Regions from separate parts of the Homo sapiens genome. Here region 1 is reported to be linked to region 2. The links are microRNA targets in miRTarBase. Many come from high-throughput screens and were not tested one by one. Region 2 holds a microRNA gene; the other region holds the end of a gene's coding sequence.

Evidence for each region. The annotated mature microRNA hsa-miR-582-3p reads UAACUGGUUGAACAACUGAACC and lies in region 2 at 905-926, opposite strand. An mRNA with a match to its seed (bases 2 to 7 or 8) in the 3' UTR can be bound and repressed. Matches are read on the target gene's strand: a 7mer-m8 pairs with bases 2 to 8, a 7mer-A1 pairs with bases 2 to 7 and ends in A, and an 8mer does both.
Region 1: the mRNA of CEACAM5 is a reported target of hsa-miR-582-3p. Seed matches in the 3' UTR shown: 7mer-A1 at 2,501-2,507.

What each region holds. Positions count from the first base shown.
Region 1 is chr19:41,726,868-41,729,998 of GRCh38, forward strand. CEACAM5 (CEA cell adhesion molecule 5) reads left to right here. Exons shown (of 10, transcript NM_004363.6): 9 at 367-485; 10 at 2,317-3,131. The coding sequence ends at 449. Among named protein-coding and RNA genes, the nearest start is that of CEACAM5, 20 kb to the left of the region's middle.
Region 2 is chr5:59,702,726-59,705,725 of GRCh38, forward strand. MIR582 (microRNA 582) reads right to left here and starts at 978; the gene lies at 881-978. All of the region lies in intron 1 of PDE4D (phosphodiesterase 4D), which reads right to left.

The sequences.
Region 1 (3,131 bases), not on the chromosome of region 2:
TCCCTGCCACAGAGACCCAACAGACTTATTTATGCCTACCACAACTGAGACACTGAGAAAAAGATGCAACCATGAAAAGATAGAAAGTTCTAATGACACGCAAAAATAGCAATCAGACTTTCTCAAATTTCAAAGCCTTCAGAAATAGCTGAGTGCAGACAGGCCAGGGTGGAATTGACAGAAGACTGATCACCAACTAGCAACACAGTGAGAGAGAAAAAATTGCAACTTTCCCACAAAACTAATGCATTCCTTGAAGCAACAAGTAGAGACTGCTTCATGCTGAGAGCTGGAACCTGGGGCACCCCACTGTAAAATAACATCACATTCATTCCTTCTCTTTTCTTTCCATGACGGACGATTCAGCATCTGGAACTTCTCCTGGTCTCTCAGCTGGGGCCACTGTCGGCATCATGATTGGAGTGCTGGTTGGGGTTGCTCTGATATAGCAGCCCTGGTGTAGTTTCTTCATTTCAGGAAGACTGGTAGGTATAATGGCCTTTCCTCTTGTTCTGTTTCCTGCAGTGCTGACTGCCATGCTTGGGAGAGGGAAGGGATTTCTTCACCTGTATCTGGGACTGGATCTCTTCCTCCTACCCCCAAGCTCCTGCTTCTCAGCACTAATTCCTGCAGGTCTCTTCTTCCCTGGTCTTCATGCTCCCTGTACGCCACTGTCTCTTAGATATAATTATCCCCACCCTCTGCTCATTTGTTTCCCAGATTCAATACATTGTCAAAGCCTCTTGGTCCTTTTTTAACATCTCACACTTGTGTCATTCTCTCCATTCCCATAAACCTCAACAACTGCTCAAAGTCCTGCTTGACCCCTTGTTGCCAGTCTTTGAAATCTTTCTTGCATATGACTGCCTCATTACCTTCCTAAAATCTAGTTCACTCGCCTACTCAAGAAGACACAGGGGCCTACTGTGGTGTATTAGATAAGTTCACATTTCTTCTCTTTACTAATCTTTTTTACTTCCTTTACCACCACTCCCTTATATAATTCCATCATCCTAATAGATCTGTTTCCCTACACATCCCTGCCTCTCCACCCCACATGTACACAGAATTCTTAGTTCCGGTGTTACACCTAAAAACATGTCAAACAGGGTGACCTCCTTCCACTGTCTGCACTGTGGAGTTACCCACACCCTTAATCACAAGCAACTTCTGACCTCATGAAGAACAAAGACTGTAGCATTAACCTGTGAGTCTTAAGCTCAGGACACAACTGTGCCTGTGACTGAGAACCTTTTCCTGATAACCAATTCATATGTTCATAACAGATACAGAAATGAAGAAGGCAAGGTCCTTAATTCTATAACAGGAGACAAAACCTGAAAAATAATCATAATGCCAAAATAGAAAGGAGTGAACATCACAAGAAATTAGAGAAATCTGACGGAAAATATAGCTACACATTGGAATCACTCAGAAACATTTTATAAAATGGATACTTAAGTCCCACCGATAAATTCCGATTTACTGGTCTGGAGTGGGACCCAGGCATTCGTAATTTTTAAGCCTCCCCAGATGCTACTAATGTGTAGCCAGGATGGAGAAACCCTGTTCTAAATAGGTAGGACTTGGGGCTAAACCCATGACTTTCAGCTAGGAGGATTAGAATTGCCCATGGAGTTTTTCTGGCTGGGCACGGTGGCTCACGCCTATAATCCCAGCACTTTGGGAGGCCAAGGCGGACGGATCAGGAGTTCAAGACCAGCCTGACCAACATGGTGAAACCCCCTCTCTACTAAAAATACAAAAAAATCAGCTGGGCATGGTGGCACGTGCCTGTAATTCCAGCTACTCAGAAGGCTGAGGCAGGAGAATCGCTTGAACCCGGGAGGTGGAGATTGCAGTGAGCCGAGATCGTGCCACTGCACTCCAGCCTGGGCGACAGAGCAAGACTCCGTCTCAAAAAAAAAAAAAAAAAAAGAATTGCCTGTGGAGTTTTTCAACATACGTAAGCCTATACTTTGTTGGCCCTGTTCATTAATGGGCTCCACCAGGAAATTAGGAATCTAGTTGAGAAACAGAAGCTGAATGGAAAGGCCACCTTATTTGATATGTTAAATTATATGGGAAGCACTGTCAAATCATTAGTGATGTTAAACCTTCTCTAAGTTATATTTATGAGTATGTTATTGATGTATTCCAAAAGTTATATAAGAAATTCTAGAAATCTAATTGGTTATCAGCCATAATGTCATATGCCACAGAAGTAACTAAATTTCTATGTGAGTTGTGTTCTTATTATAATAAATTATCATCAGATTTTTAACTGTACTCATTTTAAATCTTTGTCATTCACAGACAGTTGTTTTGCTTCTTCCTTAAAGCATTTGCAACAGCTACAGTCTAAAATTGCTTCTTTACCAAGGATATTTACAGAAAAGACTCTGACCAGAGATCGAGACCATCCTAGCCAACATCGTGAAACCCCATCTCTACTAAAAATACAAAAATGAGCTGGGCTTGGTGGCGCACACCTGTAGTCCCAGTTACTCGGGAGGCTGAGGCAGGAGAATCGCTTGAACCCGGGAGGTGGAGATTGCAGTGAGCCCAGATCGCACCACTGCACTCCAGTCTGGCAACAGAGCAAGACTCCATCTCAAAAAGAAAAGAAAAGAAGACTCTGACCTGTACTCTTGAATACAAGTTTCTGATACCACTGCACTGTCTGAGAATTTCCAAAACTTTAATGAACTAACTGACAGCTTCATGAAACTGTCCACCAAGATCAAGCAGAGAAAATAATTAATTTCATGGGACTAAATGAACTAATGAGGATAATATTTTCATAATTTTTTATTTGAAATTTTGCTGATTCTTTAAATGTCTTGTTTCCCAGATTTCAGGAAACTTTTTTTCTTTTAAGCTATCCACAGCTTACAGCAATTTGATAAAATATACTTTTGTGAACAAAAATTGAGACATTTACATTTTCTCCCTATGTGGTCGCTCCAGACTTGGGAAACTATTCATGAATATTTATATTGTATGGTAATATAGTTATTGCACAAGTTCAATAAAAATCTGCTCTTTGTATGACAGAATACATTTGAAAACATTGGTTATATTACCAAGACTTTGACTAGAATGTCGTATTTGAGGATATAAACCCATAG
Region 2 (3,000 bases):
GGGTGTTGTGGCACATGCCTGTAATTCCAGCTACTTGAGAGGCTGAGGTGGGAGGATCACCTGAGCCAGGAGAGGTCAAGGTTGCAGTGAGCCATGATGGTGCCACTGCACTCCAGCCTGGGCAACAGAGTGAGACCCTGTCTCAAAAAAAAAAAAAAAAAAAAAAATTAGACCAAAAAACAAAAACCCAAAAAGCCAAAATGCATCCAAGTATCATAAGTGAAAAAGTGAGCTTCTTAGCAGCCAATATGCAAAGGGAACATAATCTCTTACACAGTTTGGAATTACTCAGAAAACGTGGAACTGTCTTCAATCCTAAAGCGTCACATAGAAATGTTCCCTGAGTCTCACTGGGACAACACACTGAGCAATAGCTTTACCAGAATGTTTTGTGAATATGGTATGATATCAAGAGTAATAAAGTTATTTTGGAAAAAAATAACTTTAGAATAATCACTTAAAAGTCTGCTGTTTTTGACCATAATTGCACATGGATATATTGCCTTATATAAACTACAAAGAATTGTCTATTTCACATCACATTTTACAACTTACATTGCAAACCTCACTTCAGCCTTGAGGTACAACTATCAATAAAAGAAACAGGTCTTATTTTTAAAACTTTTTATTATTCATATCCTTGGTGACTTTCAGACAATAATTAACATGTGGTTAGTATCACCTTAATGGAGGAAGTACCTTATACTTCAAACAACCCTTACCAAAAGAACAGATAATACATATGTATTGATACAGCATTACAAATTGATGATAATTCAAAAAGGCACCATGTAGCTTGTACTTGAGAAGGAATTTTCCCTTTGCATATTGAAGGGGGTTCTGGTGGTGTTTTCTTTGTCCCCAGCCGACTTCACAATGAAATGTTTCTACTTTGCACCCTTTGGGTTCAGTTGTTCAACCAGTTACAATTAGTTAGATTAGTAACTGGTTGAACAACTGTAATCAAAGAGCACAGATTGACTTGTTGTGGTCTACTAGAGAGAGATTTGCTAGTGGTGTTCAGCAGGGCTCTGTCTGTCCTCTTCAATGTGTGCATGAATGACTTGAAGCAACATACATACATTCAAGAAAAATTCATTAAACATTGAATCATCATCTAATATTTGCCTGCTATTATGACAGGTCCTGAGGGAACCAAGAAAATGTCAGTTACATGGCTCTGATGCAAAGCTGGGAAGAAGGAGAAGGAGTCAGAGGTAGAGGCAGAGAGAGTAAAAGAAAGAGGGAGAAAGTGAGAAAGTGAGACAGAGAAAGAGAGGGAGGCCATGTTACACAACAGGAAATGTAACACATGACCTCCAGCTCGAAAAATTTGAATAAAAAGATATTTCAAGGAGTGCGAGGGAGGTAACCCTTACAATTATTAGAATGAACATTTACTCATTGTCAACACTATGGAGCACATATTTGGGAATTCACCTTTATTTATGCCACACAATATTATGTAGGTGACAAGCTAACCCGTCGTATTTAACAATATAAACAAAAACACAAATATCCTACTTTATTAAACTGAAAGCAGAGGACTCTCATCTCCCCAAAGCCCAGGCCATTCCCTGATATTAGTAAGGATACTAGGTGAAACTCCTTCTTTCAACATTTATTGTAATTAGTGAAAACATGCTTAATGGGACACCATCATCTACAATGATGACACCATATCTCAAATCACTAATCTTTCTGCCATGGACAGATTTCTGTATCAGGGGACACCTTTGTCATTTTGTCATCCAAATTTTGAGGATTCTTTTTCAATTCTCCAGCATTGACTGAGAATTTAAATGGTGCCAGCATTGTGCTGGAAACTGGATAAAAACTGAGATAACACACTTGAGTTCCTACTCTCAGAGAATCCACTTATTGGATTGCTTTGCTATAATTCCTGAATCCAGTGAGATTAACTGGTATTTTCTGTTGTTCAAAAAACTACTTTTCCCCTTTTTGTACAGATCAGCAATAAACATTTACATCGAGATTGTGTGGTGTCCATGAACAAGGCATTCAGTAGGGTCCAAGTCTAGACTTGAATGGCGTCTCTCACATTTTTGACTAAGAGACAATGTAGACATAAAAGTATCATAATCCAACTTACATACAAAATGGAAAAAATGGAACCAGAACACCTTAAAATGTTTCCTTTGAAATATGTGTGTGTTTCCATCAGGTTTATTTTAGTTCTCTAAAACTCTGTAATACTGAATACTCCAACTACCAATATTAGTCAAAGCTGTTTAAAACCAGCCTTCCCTTATTTACAAAAGGCAGATTTTACAAGACAACTATCAGGGATAAACACAAAAAGAAATGAAAACTGTTCCATGTCTAGCAATTCGCCAGAGTAAACTGGCTGTATATTGAACACAGCTGTTTCTGTGAGGGATTTTTCTTTTTTTGGAATTTAATATTGACTGTGCTCTTGTGGCAAGAATATAGTAAATGAAAGATTGTTCCAGGCCTGAGAAGAAGAGAGGCCAGAAACAATTGTTCCCCTAGGTCCTCCCCTTCCTTAATAACCAAACTGTTGTCTGGAGCCTCCTTGAGTTAAAAGCCTACCATTTTTCATGTCAATTACACACAAACAGGACTTTTCTTGTCACCTTCCCTAAACTGAGGAAGACACAAACCCAGCAGGAAGGCAATTGTAAAGATAAATTTAAAAGTAAGAAGGCAAGCCTGAAATGCAAACATAGGAAAGAGCCTCTTATTCCCTACACTTCTCACTTTTCATGGACCATTGAAGGCTGTTTCTTACCAAATTGAATTCTTTGAAAAGAGAAACCATGACAATTTTCCCCAGGCTACGGTAAATATATTTTCTTGCACATTTAGTTTTTGTTTCATAACAATCCTAATAAAATTAGATGCTTTTAGCACCTTACTTAAATTAAGAAGACCTTTCCTGCTAATGTGCCCAGAACCTATCTGGGTTACTAATATTAATAGTTCCATTTTATCATGTACTTAACTTTGTGCCAGGAA